2 separate regions of the Homo sapiens genome follow, and region 1 is linked to region 2. Evidence: fine-mapped expression QTL. Tissue or cell type: whole blood. Region 2 holds a variant in brackets; the other region holds the start of a gene. All regions are shown on one strand. Distances are from middle to middle.

Region 1 (6,845 bases), 100 kb before region 2:
TTACACGCGTGCGCAGCCAGGCCTCGCCAGGGTGCGGTGCAGAGCAGAGCAGGCAGGGGTGGGGGCCGGGCCTGCAAGAGCCCGAAAGGTCGCCACCCCCTAGCCTGTGGGGTGCATCTGCGAACCAGGGTGAAGTCACAGGTCCCGGGGTGTGGAGGCTCCATCCTTTCTCCTTTCTGCCAGCCGATGTGTCCTCATCTCAGGCCCGTGCCTGGGACCCCGTGTCTGCCCAGGTGGGCAGCCTTGAGCCCAGGGGACTCAGTGCCCTCCATGCCCTGGCTGGCAGAAACCCTCAACAGCAGTCTGGGCACTGTGGGGCTCTCCCCGCCTCTCCTGCCTTGTTTGCCCCTCAGCGTGCCAGGCAGACTGGGGGCAGGACAGCCGGAAGCTGAGACCAAGGCTCCTCACAGAAGGGCCCAGGAAGTCCCCGCCCTTGGGACAGCCTCCTCCGTAGCCCCTGCACGGCACCAGTTCCCCGAGGGACGCAGCAGGCCGCCTCCCGCAGCGGCCGTGGGTCTGCACAGCCCAGCCCAGCCCAAGGCCCCCAGGAGCTGGGACTCTGCTACACCCAGTGAAATGCTGTGTCCCTTCTCCCCCGTGCCCCTTGATGCCCCCTCCCCACAGTGCTCAGGAGACCCGTGGGGCACGGAACAGGAGGGTCTGGACCCTGTGGCCCAGCCAAAGGCTACCAGACAGCCACAACCAGCCCAGCCACCATCCAGTGCCTGGGGCCTGGCCACTGGCTCTTCACAGTGGACCCCAGCACCTCGGGGTGGCAGAGGGACGGCCCCCACGGCCCAGCAGACATGCGAGCTTCCAGAGTGCAATCTATGTGATGTCTTCCAACGTTAATAAATCACACAGCCTCCCAGGAGGGAGACGCTGGGGTGCACTGGGTGCCTGATTTCCTGCAGGGGGACACAGGGGCACCCAGTGAGGGTGGGGAGGGCCCTCACCCCAGGGACACAGCTGAGGTGGGTGCACCTAACTCCAAGGGAGCTGAGGCCCCACTGCCAGGCTCAGGGGGCTGTGTTAGCCCCAGGGCTCAACAAACACCCTGAGAAAAGGCCAGCCTTGGAGGCAGGGCTGCTGTGTGCCCATTCTCCCAGAGAGGTCCCATCACTATGCCTGTTGTACAGGTGAGACAAGAGAGAGACAGAGTCACCCAGAACCAAGAGGCTGGGTTGGGAGGACGGTTGGGAGGGCAGACATCCGCCTCTCCATGCAAAAGAGGAGAGGCCTGCGTGGGATGTGTGCGTGGAGGTGGGGGCCACTCCCAGCCACAACAGTGGCCTGGACAGAAAGGGGATGCAATTCAGCAGAGTCTTCCTGGATGTCACCCCCACCTCAGGGTCTGTGGGAGCTGCATATGGTGCCGGCAAAGGCTGCCGACTGCAGTATGGGCCGGGAGAACTGCCTGGGTCTGCGTGGGCCCCAGGGCAGGGCTCCCTCCGGGTGTTGCCTTCTGTACAAGTGCCATGCTTGTGCCGTTTGCGTGTCCCAAGTGCGAGTGTGCTATTTGCGTGTGCCGCACGTGTGCCGTTTGCATGTGCTGTTTGCATGTACCATGTGCATGTGTGCCATCTGTGCAATGTGCAGGTGCCAGTTGCATGTGCCATGCGTGTTGGCCGTGAGCGTGTGCTGTTTTCGTGTATGTGCCATGCACGTATGTGCTGCGTGTTGGCCGTGCACGTGTGCCACGTGCATGTGTGCCATTTGTGTATGCCGTGTGTGCTGTGAGCGTATGCTGTGCGCATGTGCGTGCCATGTGCTTTGCGTGTACCATGTGTGTGCTGTTTGCATGTGCCATTTGTGTCATGCACGTGCCATTTGCGTGCGATGCGCGTGTGCCACACGTCGTTTGCTTGCGTGCCATGCATGTGTGGCATTTGTGTATGTGCCGTTTCCGTGTGTATTGTGTGTGCCGTGTGTGTGCCATTTGCATGTGCCGTTTTGTGTGTGCCATGCGCGTGTGCCATGCACTTGCCGTGCGTGTGCCATTTGTGTGTACCATGCGCATGTGCCATTCGTGTGCACCGTACACGTGTGCCATTTGCATGTATGCTGTGCACGTGTGGCATGCATGTGTGCCGTTTGCATGCCATGCATGTGTTCCTTGCGTGTGCCGTGCGTGTCCCATGCACGTGTGCCGTGCATGTGCCATTCGCGTGTACCATGCGCATGTGCCGTTTGTGTGTGTGCCGCATTCCTGTGCTCGTGTGCCAGGTTCGCATGTGCGCCATATTCACGTGTGCTCAGCATGTGCCATATGCATGTGCGGTGGTAGTGTGTGTCCCTCACAGGTCCTCCTCACAACACCATGGGGAAGAAGCACCAGCCAGGGCACACCTCCTGGTATCTGCTAGGTCTGCCAGGCCCTAGCTGAAGCTGAGTGCCCCCCAGTTCCCCTGGGAGGGCCTGCGCCTGGAGTCTGCTGTGTCCCCGAGGGCACCCCCAAAGCAACACAGAGGCAGAGGAGTCCCGGCCCTGCACACCTGGTGCTGCTCCAGCTGCCGCTCATTTGCCTGTGGCCCTTCCTCCCTTGTTTGCGTGCCCCCCTGGCAAACAAACTCTACCCCCAGCAGGAGCCACCTGTGTGCCTGCCACGCAGGAGTGGCCCAGACGGGGGTCAGCAGTGTGAGTACAGCTGGCCATGCGGTTCCTACAGCTTCCAGGCGTCAGACTCTGGCAGAAGGGCTGAGACCCTCAAGGAACTCTGCTCCCAAGCAGACTGGGAGGGCAGCACCACCACCCCAGGGCCCTCCCCAGCTGCAGGGTGGAGGCCTGGCTGGCCGGCTGCCCACTGGCCTGACTGGTCTGCAGGCCTAGGGGGCCCATCCCTGCTGCCCCCGGCTCCGGCCAGCACAGCCTTGAGTGGGAGCCAGAAGCTCCCGGGGCTGGGTAGGAGGCATTTCTGTGCTTATGAAAAGCCCCAGGGCTGGGTGTCTCTGCATCCCTCCCACGCAGCTGAGACCTCAGAGCCCTGGAGGCCCCTTTGCCCCCTCTCCTCTCCACAGCCTGCTGGGCAACTCCAGGAATCGGGGGGTGGCAAGGGGCTCAGCCACAGGCAGGGAACAAGGCCACGGCCAGCAACTGAGCAGAGCCTGCCTGCCGGTCAACGCTGGCCATAGAGCCTGGCAGTGGCCTCAGGCAGAGTCTGACGCGCACAAACTTTCAGGCCCAGGAAGCGAGGACACCACTGGGGCCCCAGGGTGTGGCAAGTGAGGATGGCAAGGGTTTTGCTAAACAAATCCTCTGCCCGCTCCCCGCCCCGGGCTCACTCCATGTGAGGCCCCAGTCGGGGCAGCCACCTGCCGTGCCTGTTGGAAGTTGCCTCTGCCATGCTGGGCCCTGCTGTCCTGGGCCTCAGCCTCTGGGCTCTCCTGCACCCTGGGACGGGGGCCCCATTGTGCCTGTCACAGCAACTTAGGATGAAGGGGGACTACGTGCTGGGGGGGCTGTTCCCCCTGGGCGAGGCCGAGGAGGCTGGCCTCCGCAGCCGGACACGGCCCAGCAGCCCTGTGTGCACCAGGTACAGAGGTGGGACGGCCTGGGTCGGGGTCAGGGTGACCAGGTCTGGGGTGCTCCTGAGCTGGGGCCGAGGTGGCCATCTGCGGTTCTGTGTGGCCCCAGGTTCTCCTCAAACGGCCTGCTCTGGGCACTGGCCATGAAAATGGCCGTGGAGGAGATCAACAACAAGTCGGATCTGCTGCCCGGGCTGCGCCTGGGCTACGACCTCTTTGATACGTGCTCGGAGCCTGTGGTGGCCATGAAGCCCAGCCTCATGTTCCTGGCCAAGGCAGGCAGCCGCGACATCGCCGCCTACTGCAACTACACGCAGTACCAGCCCCGTGTGCTGGCTGTCATCGGGCCCCACTCGTCAGAGCTCGCCATGGTCACCGGCAAGTTCTTCAGCTTCTTCCTCATGCCCCAGGTGGGCGCCCCCCACCATCACCCACCCCCACCCAGCCCTGCCCGTGGGAGCCCCTGTGTCAGGAGATGCCTCTTGGCCCTTGCAGGTCAGCTACGGTGCTAGCATGGAGCTGCTGAGCGCCCGGGAGACCTTCCCCTCCTTCTTCCGCACCGTGCCCAGCGACCGTGTGCAGCTGACGGCCGCCGCGGAGCTGCTGCAGGAGTTCGGCTGGAACTGGGTGGCCGCCCTGGGCAGCGACGACGAGTACGGCCGGCAGGGCCTGAGCATCTTCTCGGCCCTGGCCGCGGCACGCGGCATCTGCATCGCGCACGAGGGCCTGGTGCCGCTGCCCCGTGCCGATGACTCGCGGCTGGGGAAGGTGCAGGACGTCCTGCACCAGGTGAACCAGAGCAGCGTGCAGGTGGTGCTGCTGTTCGCCTCCGTGCACGCCGCCCACGCCCTCTTCAACTACAGCATCAGCAGCAGGCTCTCGCCCAAGGTGTGGGTGGCCAGCGAGGCCTGGCTGACCTCTGACCTGGTCATGGGGCTGCCCGGCATGGCCCAGATGGGCACGGTGCTTGGCTTCCTCCAGAGGGGTGCCCAGCTGCACGAGTTCCCCCAGTACGTGAAGACGCACCTGGCCCTGGCCACCGACCCGGCCTTCTGCTCTGCCCTGGGCGAGAGGGAGCAGGGTCTGGAGGAGGACGTGGTGGGCCAGCGCTGCCCGCAGTGTGACTGCATCACGCTGCAGAACGTGAGCGCAGGGCTAAATCACCACCAGACGTTCTCTGTCTACGCAGCTGTGTATAGCGTGGCCCAGGCCCTGCACAACACTCTTCAGTGCAACGCCTCAGGCTGCCCCGCGCAGGACCCCGTGAAGCCCTGGCAGGTGAGCCCGGGAGATGGGGGTGTGCTGTCCTCTGCATGTGCCCAGGCCACCAGGCACGGCCACCACGCCTGAGCTGGAGGTGGCTGGCGGCTCAGCCCCGTCCCCCGCCCGCAGCTCCTGGAGAACATGTACAACCTGACCTTCCACGTGGGCGGGCTGCCGCTGCGGTTCGACAGCAGCGGAAACGTGGACATGGAGTACGACCTGAAGCTGTGGGTGTGGCAGGGCTCAGTGCCCAGGCTCCACGACGTGGGCAGGTTCAACGGCAGCCTCAGGACAGAGCGCCTGAAGATCCGCTGGCACACGTCTGACAACCAGGTGAGGTGAGGGTGGGTGTGCCAGGCGTGCCCGTGGTAGCCCCCGCGGCAGGGCGCAGCCTGGGGGTGGGGGCCGTTCCAGTCTCCCGTGGGCATGCCCAGCCGAGCAGAGCCAGACCCCAGGCCTGTGCGCAGAAGCCCGTGTCCCGGTGCTCGCGGCAGTGCCAGGAGGGCCAGGTGCGCCGGGTCAAGGGGTTCCACTCCTGCTGCTACGACTGTGTGGACTGCGAGGCGGGCAGCTACCGGCAAAACCCAGGTGAGCCGCCTTCCCGGCAGGCGGGGGTGGGAACGCAGCAGGGGAGGGTCCTGCCAAGTCCTGACTCTGAGACCAGAGCCCACAGGGTACAAGACGAACACCCAGCGCCCTTCTCCTCTCTCACAGACGACATCGCCTGCACCTTTTGTGGCCAGGATGAGTGGTCCCCGGAGCGAAGCACACGCTGCTTCCGCCGCAGGTCTCGGTTCCTGGCATGGGGCGAGCCGGCTGTGCTGCTGCTGCTCCTGCTGCTGAGCCTGGCGCTGGGCCTTGTGCTGGCTGCTTTGGGGCTGTTCGTTCACCATCGGGACAGCCCACTGGTTCAGGCCTCGGGGGGGCCCCTGGCCTGCTTTGGCCTGGTGTGCCTGGGCCTGGTCTGCCTCAGCGTCCTCCTGTTCCCTGGCCAGCCCAGCCCTGCCCGATGCCTGGCCCAGCAGCCCTTGTCCCACCTCCCGCTCACGGGCTGCCTGAGCACACTCTTCCTGCAGGCGGCCGAGATCTTCGTGGAGTCAGAACTGCCTCTGAGCTGGGCAGACCGGCTGAGTGGCTGCCTGCGGGGGCCCTGGGCCTGGCTGGTGGTGCTGCTGGCCATGCTGGTGGAGGTCGCACTGTGCACCTGGTACCTGGTGGCCTTCCCGCCGGAGGTGGTGACGGACTGGCACATGCTGCCCACGGAGGCGCTGGTGCACTGCCGCACACGCTCCTGGGTCAGCTTCGGCCTAGCGCACGCCACCAATGCCACGCTGGCCTTTCTCTGCTTCCTGGGCACTTTCCTGGTGCGGAGCCAGCCGGGCTGCTACAACCGTGCCCGTGGCCTCACCTTTGCCATGCTGGCCTACTTCATCACCTGGGTCTCCTTTGTGCCCCTCCTGGCCAATGTGCAGGTGGTCCTCAGGCCCGCCGTGCAGATGGGCGCCCTCCTGCTCTGTGTCCTGGGCATCCTGGCTGCCTTCCACCTGCCCAGGTGTTACCTGCTCATGCGGCAGCCAGGGCTCAACACCCCCGAGTTCTTCCTGGGAGGGGGCCCTGGGGATGCCCAAGGCCAGAATGACGGGAACACAGGAAATCAGGGGAAACATGAGTGACCCAACCCTGTGATCTCAGCCCCGGTGAACCCAGACTTAGCTGCGATCCCCCCCAAGCCAGCAATGACCCGTGTCTCGCTACAGAGACCCTCCCGCTCTAGGTTCTGACCCCAGGTTGTCTCCTGACCCTGACCCCACAGTGAGCCCTAGGCCTGGAGCACGTGGACACCCCTGTGACCATCTGGGCCCCAGAGCCAAGCTGTGTCCCTGTCCCTCTGTGCCCAGACCAGGCCTGCCCAGGTAACCCAGACCCACTGTTCTGGAAAGAGGCCCGGAGGGCTCCCAGGGTACCCGCAACCCACACCGTGAGCTCAGGAAAAGGACGCAGGGAGGCCCCGGCCAGATGGCTGGAAGCCCAAATCAGGCCCTGCCGACCTGACCATGT
Region 2 (7,770 bases):
ACCCTGCCCTGCTCCCCTCTTCTCCCCCTTCCCTCCATCATCCCGCCCGCTCCCCTCTCCACCCCTCCCCTTCCCCTCCATCACCCTGCCCAGCCCCCTCCCCTCCATCACCCTGCCCTGCCCCCAGCCCTCCATTACCCCGCCCCGCCCCCCACTGACGGCCCGCCCGGCCCCCAGGTCCACCCCGCTCCGGGTCCCCGGTGCCGCGCGCTGTTCTCAGACCGCGGCTCCGCGGCGCTCATCGTGTTCGGGCTTCTCTCGCTGCCGCCGCTGCTGGTGCTCGCCTCGGCCGTCCGCGCCCGCCTAGCCCGGCGCCTCCGCCCGCTGCTGCCTCCGCCCGCTGGGACCCCCGGACCCCGCCGCCCCCCGGGGCGCCCCGACGAGGACGAGCAACTCTGCGCCTGGGTGTGACCCGGCGGCCGCTGCGAAACCCCGGGAGGCCTCCGAGCTCGCGCGCGACCCCATCGCGTGGCCCGGCCCGGAAAACTGAGGGTCGCCCCCGCTGCCCCTTCCTGGCTGGGCGCGCAGCGCTCCCGGCTTACGACCCCGGCCTCCCCCGCCCGCAGCCCCGCCCCCGCCACGGAGGGCAGGGGAGGGGAAGAGAGGGGAGGGGAGGGGAAGAGAGGGGAGGGGAGGGGGAGAGAGGGGAGGGGAGGGGAGGGGAAGAGGGGAGGGGAGGGGAAGAGAGGGGAGGGGAGGGGAAGAGAGGGGAGGGGAGGGGAAGAGAGGGGAGGGGAGGGGAAGAGGGGAGGGGAGGGGAGGGGAGGCAAAGAGAGGGGAGGTGAGGGAAAGAGAGGAGAGGGGAGGGGAAGAGAGGGGAGGGAAGGGCAGGGCAGGGCAGAGCCCGGCAGGCAGCCCTCAGAGGAGGGGCGCAGGCCCCAGCCCAAGGCCTCCCGCGCCTGCCCAGGTCCCGGCCTCCATCGTCCAGGGCTCTGGGGCTCCCAGGGGAGACACCCACGCTCGGCCAAGCCCAGGGTTCCAGAAGCCCAGGGGTGGCGGCAGCCGGGCTCAGCCTATGGCCAGGCTCGCATTCAGACATGCGCCAGCCTCGGTCGGCTCTCTCCGGGAGACACTAAGATCTCCTCACTGACTTTGGTGTTCCTTGGTCTCACCAGCGCGTCCTAGCTGTGCCGAGCTCACACCCACCCTGTTTGGTGTAAGCCACAGGTCCACAACGTTCATCAGCTCTGGAAATCCCTCAACAATTGTGTCCAGTTTCACCACGAATTCCTTCTCCATATCCTCACCATTTTCTTTTACCCCCTCATCAAATTACTCCCTTCCGTCTAATCTGCTGATTAACTCATTCATTTTATCTTAAATTATTATGTTAACATATCCAGGCCAGGCACGGTGGCTCACGCCTGTAATCCCAGCACTTTGGGAAGCCGAGGAGGGCGGATCACCAGCTCAGGAGATCCAGATCATCCTGGCTAACACGGTGAAACCCCGTCTCTACTAAAAAATACAGAAATTAGCTGGGCTTGGTGGCGGGCACCTGTAGTACCAGCTACTCGGGAGGCTGAGGCAGGAGAATGGCGTGAACCTGGGAGGCAAAGCTTGCAGTGAGCCAAGATCACGCCACTGCACTCTAGCTTGGGCGAAAGAGCGAGGCTCCGTCTCAAAAAAAAAAAAAAAAAAAATTAGCTGGGCGTGGTGGTGGGCACCTATAACCTCAGCTACTTGGGAGGCTGAGGCAGGAGGATCGCTTGAACCCAGGAGGCAGAGATTGCAGTGAGCCGAAATCATGCCATTGCACTCCAGCCTGGACAACAAGAGCAAGACTCCATCTTAAAAACAAACAAAAAAACAACAAAAAAAATTAGCTGGCCATGGTGGTGCACACCTGTAGTCCCAGCTACTCAGGAGGCTGAGGCACAAGAATCATTTGAACACTGGAGGCAGAGGTTGGAGTGAGCTGAGAGGGTGCCACTGCACTCCAGCCTGGGTGACAAAGTGAAACTCCATCTCAAAAAAAAAAAAAGGTTAGCATATCTAAAAGTTACATCTGATTGTGTTTTAGATTTGTCTGATTTTTTTTATGGTCTCTTGATACATGCTTGCTTTTTAGATTACAGTTTCCACTTCTTAAACATATTTCATATATAGTTATTTTATATTCTGTACTAAATAATTCCAGTGTCCTAGTCTTTGGGGGTCTAAATCTGTGACTGGTGTTTCTGCCGATTCTCATCAGTAGCATGGTGTTTCTCTGAACGTTTGGTTGTTTAATTGTCAGCTGTTATCGGAGACAATTCTGAGGTCCAACTTGGGGATGCTTCCCTCCAGAGACTATTCCCCTTTTCCAGGCGAGACCACCCTCGGCCCCCTCAGTGACCCTTGAGACCCCTGGTTTAAGCAGCCCCTAGGCAGAGAAACATACTTGTTCCCTGGCCGCAGGCTGGCTCTCTGTCCCTGTGTGTGTCCAGGGAGTTATCTGCTTTCCCAACCACTTCCCTTCATCATCCAGGCCTCCACACTACTCTGTCTGTTTGTTTACTTAGAGACAGAGTCTTGCTCTGCCGCCCAGTCTGAGTGCAGTGGTGAGCTCCTAGCTCTCTGCAGCCTCGCCCTCCCAGGCTCAAGTGATCCTCCTGCCTCAGCCTCCCAAGTAGCTGTGACTAGAGTGCACCACCACACCCAGCTAATTTTAAATTTTTTTGTAGAGACGGGGTCTCATCATGTTGCCCAGGCTGGTCTCGAACTCCTAGGCACAAGCAATCCTCTCGCCTCAGCCTCCTAAAGTGTTGGGATTACAGGCATGAGCCACCCCACCTGGCCTTATTTATTTTTGCTGTTTAATTTTGGGGGAGACTCGGAGATATTTACTTTCTTGGAAACACAACAGTCTATTAAAAATGTACGCTCATAGTAATTCATCCAGAAGTTGGTTGTTGCTGGAAGGCCTTTTAAGGGATCTAGTACATCATATTGCCAGCAGGGCTCAGCCTGTGACCAGCAAGGTCTGGGCTCCGTCTGGGGCCAGGGTCAAGGCTCATTCCGTGGCCTTGAGCACAGCCTGGTGTGTGGCTGGGTCGAGTCCAGCAGAAGTCTCGGGGTTTTCCAGCCTCCATCCGAGTCCGGCTTTGATGCCTTTCCTGGTCAGACAGGAGCCGGGCCAGTGGCCAAGCTGCCAGGATGGCTTCCCCGGGGCCGCGGCCGCCTTCCTTCCCCTCCTGCCCGGGCTGGCTCTGGTCGCCACTAGGGGTTGAAGATGAGGGCTCTCCTGGGAAGCTCTTGGCTGAGGATCCGCCTGGTCCCGGAGCCGTGAAAACAACAGCTGGGCCTGGTGGGGGTGGGGAGGCTGAGCGGAGAGGCCAGCTCCCTTGGCTGCTGGGCAGGGTCTTCTGTCCACAGCTGCCTCAGGCGGCTGTTTCCAAAGGTGTTTCCAGCTTCCCAGGCCCACCCTGAGGCCCCGCACCGCCAGGGAGGTGGAAGGCACGGAGCAGCGAAGCCCGGCCCCGGCCCCGGCCGCCCGACCAGCTCACAGAGGAACACCTGTGGGGGGGCCTGTGGGCGGTTCACAGAGGGATGTAGGAACGTGCCTGTGGGAGGCCGTAGCCCCGGAGAGCAGAGGCCTGGCCGGCGGAAGAGAAGCAAGGAAGGGGCGATTCAGGAAGGCCAGAGCCCGAGTGCCGGGGCAGGGGCCCCACCCCCTCACCCCCTCACCCCCTCACCCCCTAGGACAGAAGAGGCCCTCCGTTGGAAGGCAGGGGCCCCACCCCCAGGACAGAAGAGGCCCCACGTTGGAAGGCAGGGGCCCCACCCCCTAGGACAGAACGGGCCCTGCGTTGAGGCCCCTGGGTTCTTCCCCCGGGTTCTTGCCTGGCCCCTTCCATGGATCCTAAGCAGCTCCCTTAT[C/T]GGCCACCATCTGGGAAGCCAGGAGGGGGGCATGAAATGAGGGGGAGGTGGGGCCCCCAGCCAGGGTTCCCCTCCTCAAGGCCCCAGGTATACAGTTGGCCTTTGCCCAGCCCTTCTAGCCCCTGCAGGGGCAGGACCCCACCTGGACCCCATGAATCTCTCCCAACTTTTGCCCAGCATGGTGTCCCTGACCGAAACCCCTCCACTTCAGGACCCTGGGTCCCCAGGCCCGCCCCCACCCTGAGGGTGCCTCTACACCCCTTCCCCCAGAGCCCCTTCCCCCAGCCTGAGGGCCAGGAGCAGCCTCCCTCTTCCTGCAGTCTCTACCACAGCTCTCCACTGGCCCAGGGGCCTGAACTCCTTGGGTGCAGCCGAGCTGCAGGGTGGCTGTGGGGACCTCTGCTTGGCGTTCTTTCCCGGTGGCTGAGGCCCCTGCCCTGCCCAAATGGGAGCCCGGAGTGTGTGTGTGTGGCTGTGTGTGTCCCATCTGCGTCCCTGTCACACGTCATGCCGGAGCAGGGGAGGCAGTAAGGGGCCCCACCCCACTGGATGCAGTGGGCTTCCCACCTTGCCCGGTGTCATTTCCTGATTTGCAAAATATTTCCTGGGAGCAGAGTTGTTGGCAAGCACAGCCTCAGACGGTGTGAGCAGCTGGGGGACCCCTCAGATGTGGCTCCCTCTGTCCCTCCGGCCTGTGCTGGCCTGCCCCTGCCCCCAGGCCTGTAAGCTGGGCAGGCTGTGGGGCAGGAACTCCCCAGGGTGAGTGGGCTGGTCTGAGGGCTAAGGCCCCTGCTCCCAGCTCCGCCCCACCCGCCTCTGGGAGTCCCTTGTGGTGTGTGGACATAGGTCAGTCCCTCCCTGCTGCCTCCTCCCTATCCCAGTCCAGGCCCCTGGGAGTTTTGCGTCTGCCCAGGGCTGTGGCCTGGGCCTGTCTGGACTGTGTCTGGGGAAGGGGCAGCATGTGGTCCTCCTCTCCCTTTCAGGGAAGGATGTCCCAGCAGAGAGGCAAAGTGAGGGGACCCACACAAGGAAGGGGCCCTGCTATTAGGAAACCCTGGGTCATTCAGGCCTGCTGCTCTCCGGCTCCCACCGGGCCGGGCTCTGTCCTCGCTGTGACGAACCTCCTGCCCCTGTCGAGGCCGGCAACACCCTCCACCCGGCCACCCCTCCCGAAGGCCCCCAGCCTGCTCTGCCCCTGCAGTCCTGGCGCAGGCCCCTCCTGCCCACCCCACCCTGCTCTCAGCACTCGCGGTTCCTTCTCTCTGCCTGGAAGGCTCTTCCTCGGGTACCCCTTGCGTGCGAGTCCCCAGTGACCCCCTGTTCTCACAGGGAAAACAAGTAGACCGTATCTTTCCTAGCTGTTCACCGCCCACCCTCCTAGCCTGGCAGTGCTGGCCCGGCGCCTGTGTGTCCCCAGCACTGAGGCTGGGGCGCGGCTGTGCCCAGCACACAGACGAGGGATGGATGGACAGACGCAGATGGTGCAGCTCCCACCCCTACCCAGGCTGCTACCCGCCAGGTGTCTACCCGCCACCCCAGCTGCTGCTGGCACGGGGGACTGAGGGGGGTCAGCTCTGGGGCCAGAGGGGCAGGCCTGGGCTCCTGGGAAGTGAAAAGTGACCCCCGAGGCCCCCAAGACCTGTCCTTGACCCCAGTGAGCAGGTTGAGTCTAGGAGCTGCGTGGGCCCTGCTCTCTTGGTGACCCCTGCTCTGCCCCACTTACTGTTGTGGGGTGGGCTCAGGCACACCCCAGAGCAGTGCCTCAGGCCCGCACCGCTGCCCCTCACCGCCGCTGCCCCTCACCGCCGCTGCCCCTCACCACTGCTGCCCCTCACCGCCCCGTCCATCTGCTCCTGTGTGTGCTTGAGTACGTTTGTGAGATACGTGAAAACAGCAACAAAAGGCGCCGGGTGCGGGCCTGGGCGTCCTGCCCTCAGCTCGGGTCAGGGGTGGGGTCAGAGGCCTCAGGAGTTGCCCTTTTACCCAGGGTCAAACATGACCACAGCCAGCTGGGGACAAAAGGCCCTTCATCTTCTGCAGAAGCCTGGATTGTGCGGAGGAGGGAGCATTCCCAAAGGCGGGTGGGGGCAGGGGCGGTGCCCGGGTGACAGCAGCCTCCCCAGCTTCCTGGAACTCTCTCCACCTGCCTGCAGACAGACCGGCAGGGCAGGCTGGCTCCGGGAAGTGAGGCACAGGGACTCCCACAGCCCAGGCCCAGACCGTGGGGGCGGGGTGGCCGCAGCCAAACCAGGCTGCTCCCCACCCCATGGGGCCCCAGGCCACCAGGATCAGACAGGGGCTGTGCCTGCAGGAGGCAGAGGGCTCGGGGCCAGCACCCACTGTGATCTGGCCTGACCCGTCCTTGCCTCTGCCTCTTACCCCGGGCCCTTCTCCCTGGAGAGTGGAGGGTTCCGGCTGTTATATTTGTGCTTCCTCCGGTGTCTGCCTCAAGTCCGGCCCGGGCCCTGACACTGCACCTCTGGCTGACCCCATGCTCTCTGGGACCCTCTGTCCACGTCCCTCCTCCGGGGTGGAGACAGCGGGGGGAGGGCAGGACACAAGAATGAGTCCTGAAGACTGAGGGGCACGGGGAGAGCTGATGGGGAGGGTCTCCTAGCTGGAGGGACTCCAGGCAGAGCCGGGAGCAAGGCAGGTGGCTGAGCTCGGCCCAGGCTGGGTGGAGGCCAGGCCTCCTGTGCCTTCTCCCGCTGATGGCGAGCTGAAGGGAGGAGGGCGGCCGCTTCCTTGAGGGCCTGAGTCACAGCCAAGAAGACCCGCTCACTTTTTCCAGAAGTGAGGGAAACTTCCCCGTCAGCCCTGCAAGGCTGGCTGAGGTGTGACTGTGGCCCGCCTGCTGGGCGAGGGTGGGGGACAAGCGGGCCACTGGCTGTGAGCCTCCCCAGGGTGGGGGACCCTCGGCCCAGCTCCCTGCCTGACTACCTGGACGTGCCTCCGCAGGGTCTGCAGCCAGCTTCCGGTCAGACCCCAGGTCCTCCAGCGGCTGCGGCCTTCAGCGTCATCTCCACGGCAGCCCCTGTGTACTGGGGGCTGGGGGGCCTGGCGAGGCCCCTCGAAGTGGTACAGCTTGCACTCTGGGGACCCAAAGTCCCCCCACCGGGCCCAGGCGGAAGCACCAGGCATTTCTGGTCCCAGCCGAGGTCTGAGGTCTGTGGAGCGCAGCCAGCACCTCCACTGCCAAGATCCCCGGCAGGGGGGGTGGGGGGCGCCGGCGGGGACACAGCTCTCCCTTGTTCCTGCCGCCAGCTCCTCAGCCTCAGCCTGCTGCTTCCTTTTTTAGGCAAAGTCGAGTGCTGGCCGTCCGCACGGCCCCGCGGTGTCTCACCTGCCTGAAAGGGAGGAAGGAAGCCTGTGGAGCCCCATCCGTTCTCCCGCGGCGCATCCTCCAGGAGAGGGTGGGGAAGGAGGAGACATCCTGGCAGACACCCCCCCACGTCCCCCACCTCCCAGCTCTGAGCTGAGGAGGCCCTGGAAGAGGGCCATGGCTACTCCGAGGGAGGGCCGGGGTAGGGTTCTCCTGTCCAGGGGACACTGCTGGCCCAGCCCCACCCAAGCAGGGGAAATCTGCCCTGGGAGCCACTGTCCCTCAGGACGCCCCCTGCAACCAGCCACCTCTCGTCTGGGCCTCACCAAGACCCCAAGACTCAAGAGCTCCTGTCTCACCAGTGGGACCCTCCAGTCCTGCTGGGGGTGTGTCCTGGGTCCTGGAGTCTGGGCCCCTCACTGGGTAGGGTATATGGGTAACAGGCCCAGTGTGGTCCCACTGGACAGGGCCTCAACCAACCATCTCCCACTCCCATGCCTCTTCCTCCAAGAAGCCCAGGTGGCGTGGGTGCTTCGAGTCTCTCTCGAATTCCTGTCTTCTGTCCCCTTTCAAGCCACTGTGTCCTT

The links. PIP is the estimated chance that this variant, and not a neighbour inherited with it, causes the effect.
Region 1: TAS1R3 starts here. The variant in region 2 is fine-mapped to the expression of TAS1R3 in whole blood (TOPMed, PIP 0.95).

What each region holds. Positions count from the first base shown.
Region 1 is chr1:1,328,005-1,334,849 of GRCh38, forward strand. It overlaps TAS1R3 (taste 1 receptor member 3), which reads left to right and starts at 3,276. Exons shown (of 6, transcript NM_152228.3): 1 at 3,276-3,532; 2 at 3,634-3,934; 3 at 4,020-4,802; 4 at 4,917-5,120; 5 at 5,255-5,375; 6 at 5,502-6,845. The coding sequence starts at 3,342. The coding sequence ends at 6,460. It overlaps CPTP (ceramide-1-phosphate transfer protein), which reads left to right. Exons shown (of 3, transcript NM_001029885.2): 3 at 1-892.
Region 2 is chr1:1,427,377-1,435,146 of GRCh38, forward strand. It overlaps TMEM278 (transmembrane protein 278), which reads left to right. Exons shown (of 2, transcript NM_001146685.2): 2 at 178-2,879. The coding sequence ends at 411. It overlaps LOC107985729, which reads left to right and starts at 5,857. Exons shown (of 4, transcript XM_017003066.2): 1 at 5,857-5,912; 2 at 6,587-6,695; 3 at 6,820-7,026; 4 at 7,160-7,770. The coding sequence starts at 5,857. It overlaps LINC01770 (long intergenic non-protein coding RNA 1770), which reads right to left and starts at 7,197. Exons shown (of 2, transcript NR_125996.1): 1 at 6,812-7,197; 2 at 2,781-3,286. RefSeq lists enhancers at 4,993-5,736, 7,225-7,770, 7,228-7,287 and a silencer at 7,073-7,367. The variant C/T (reference allele first, on the strand shown) is at 3,862.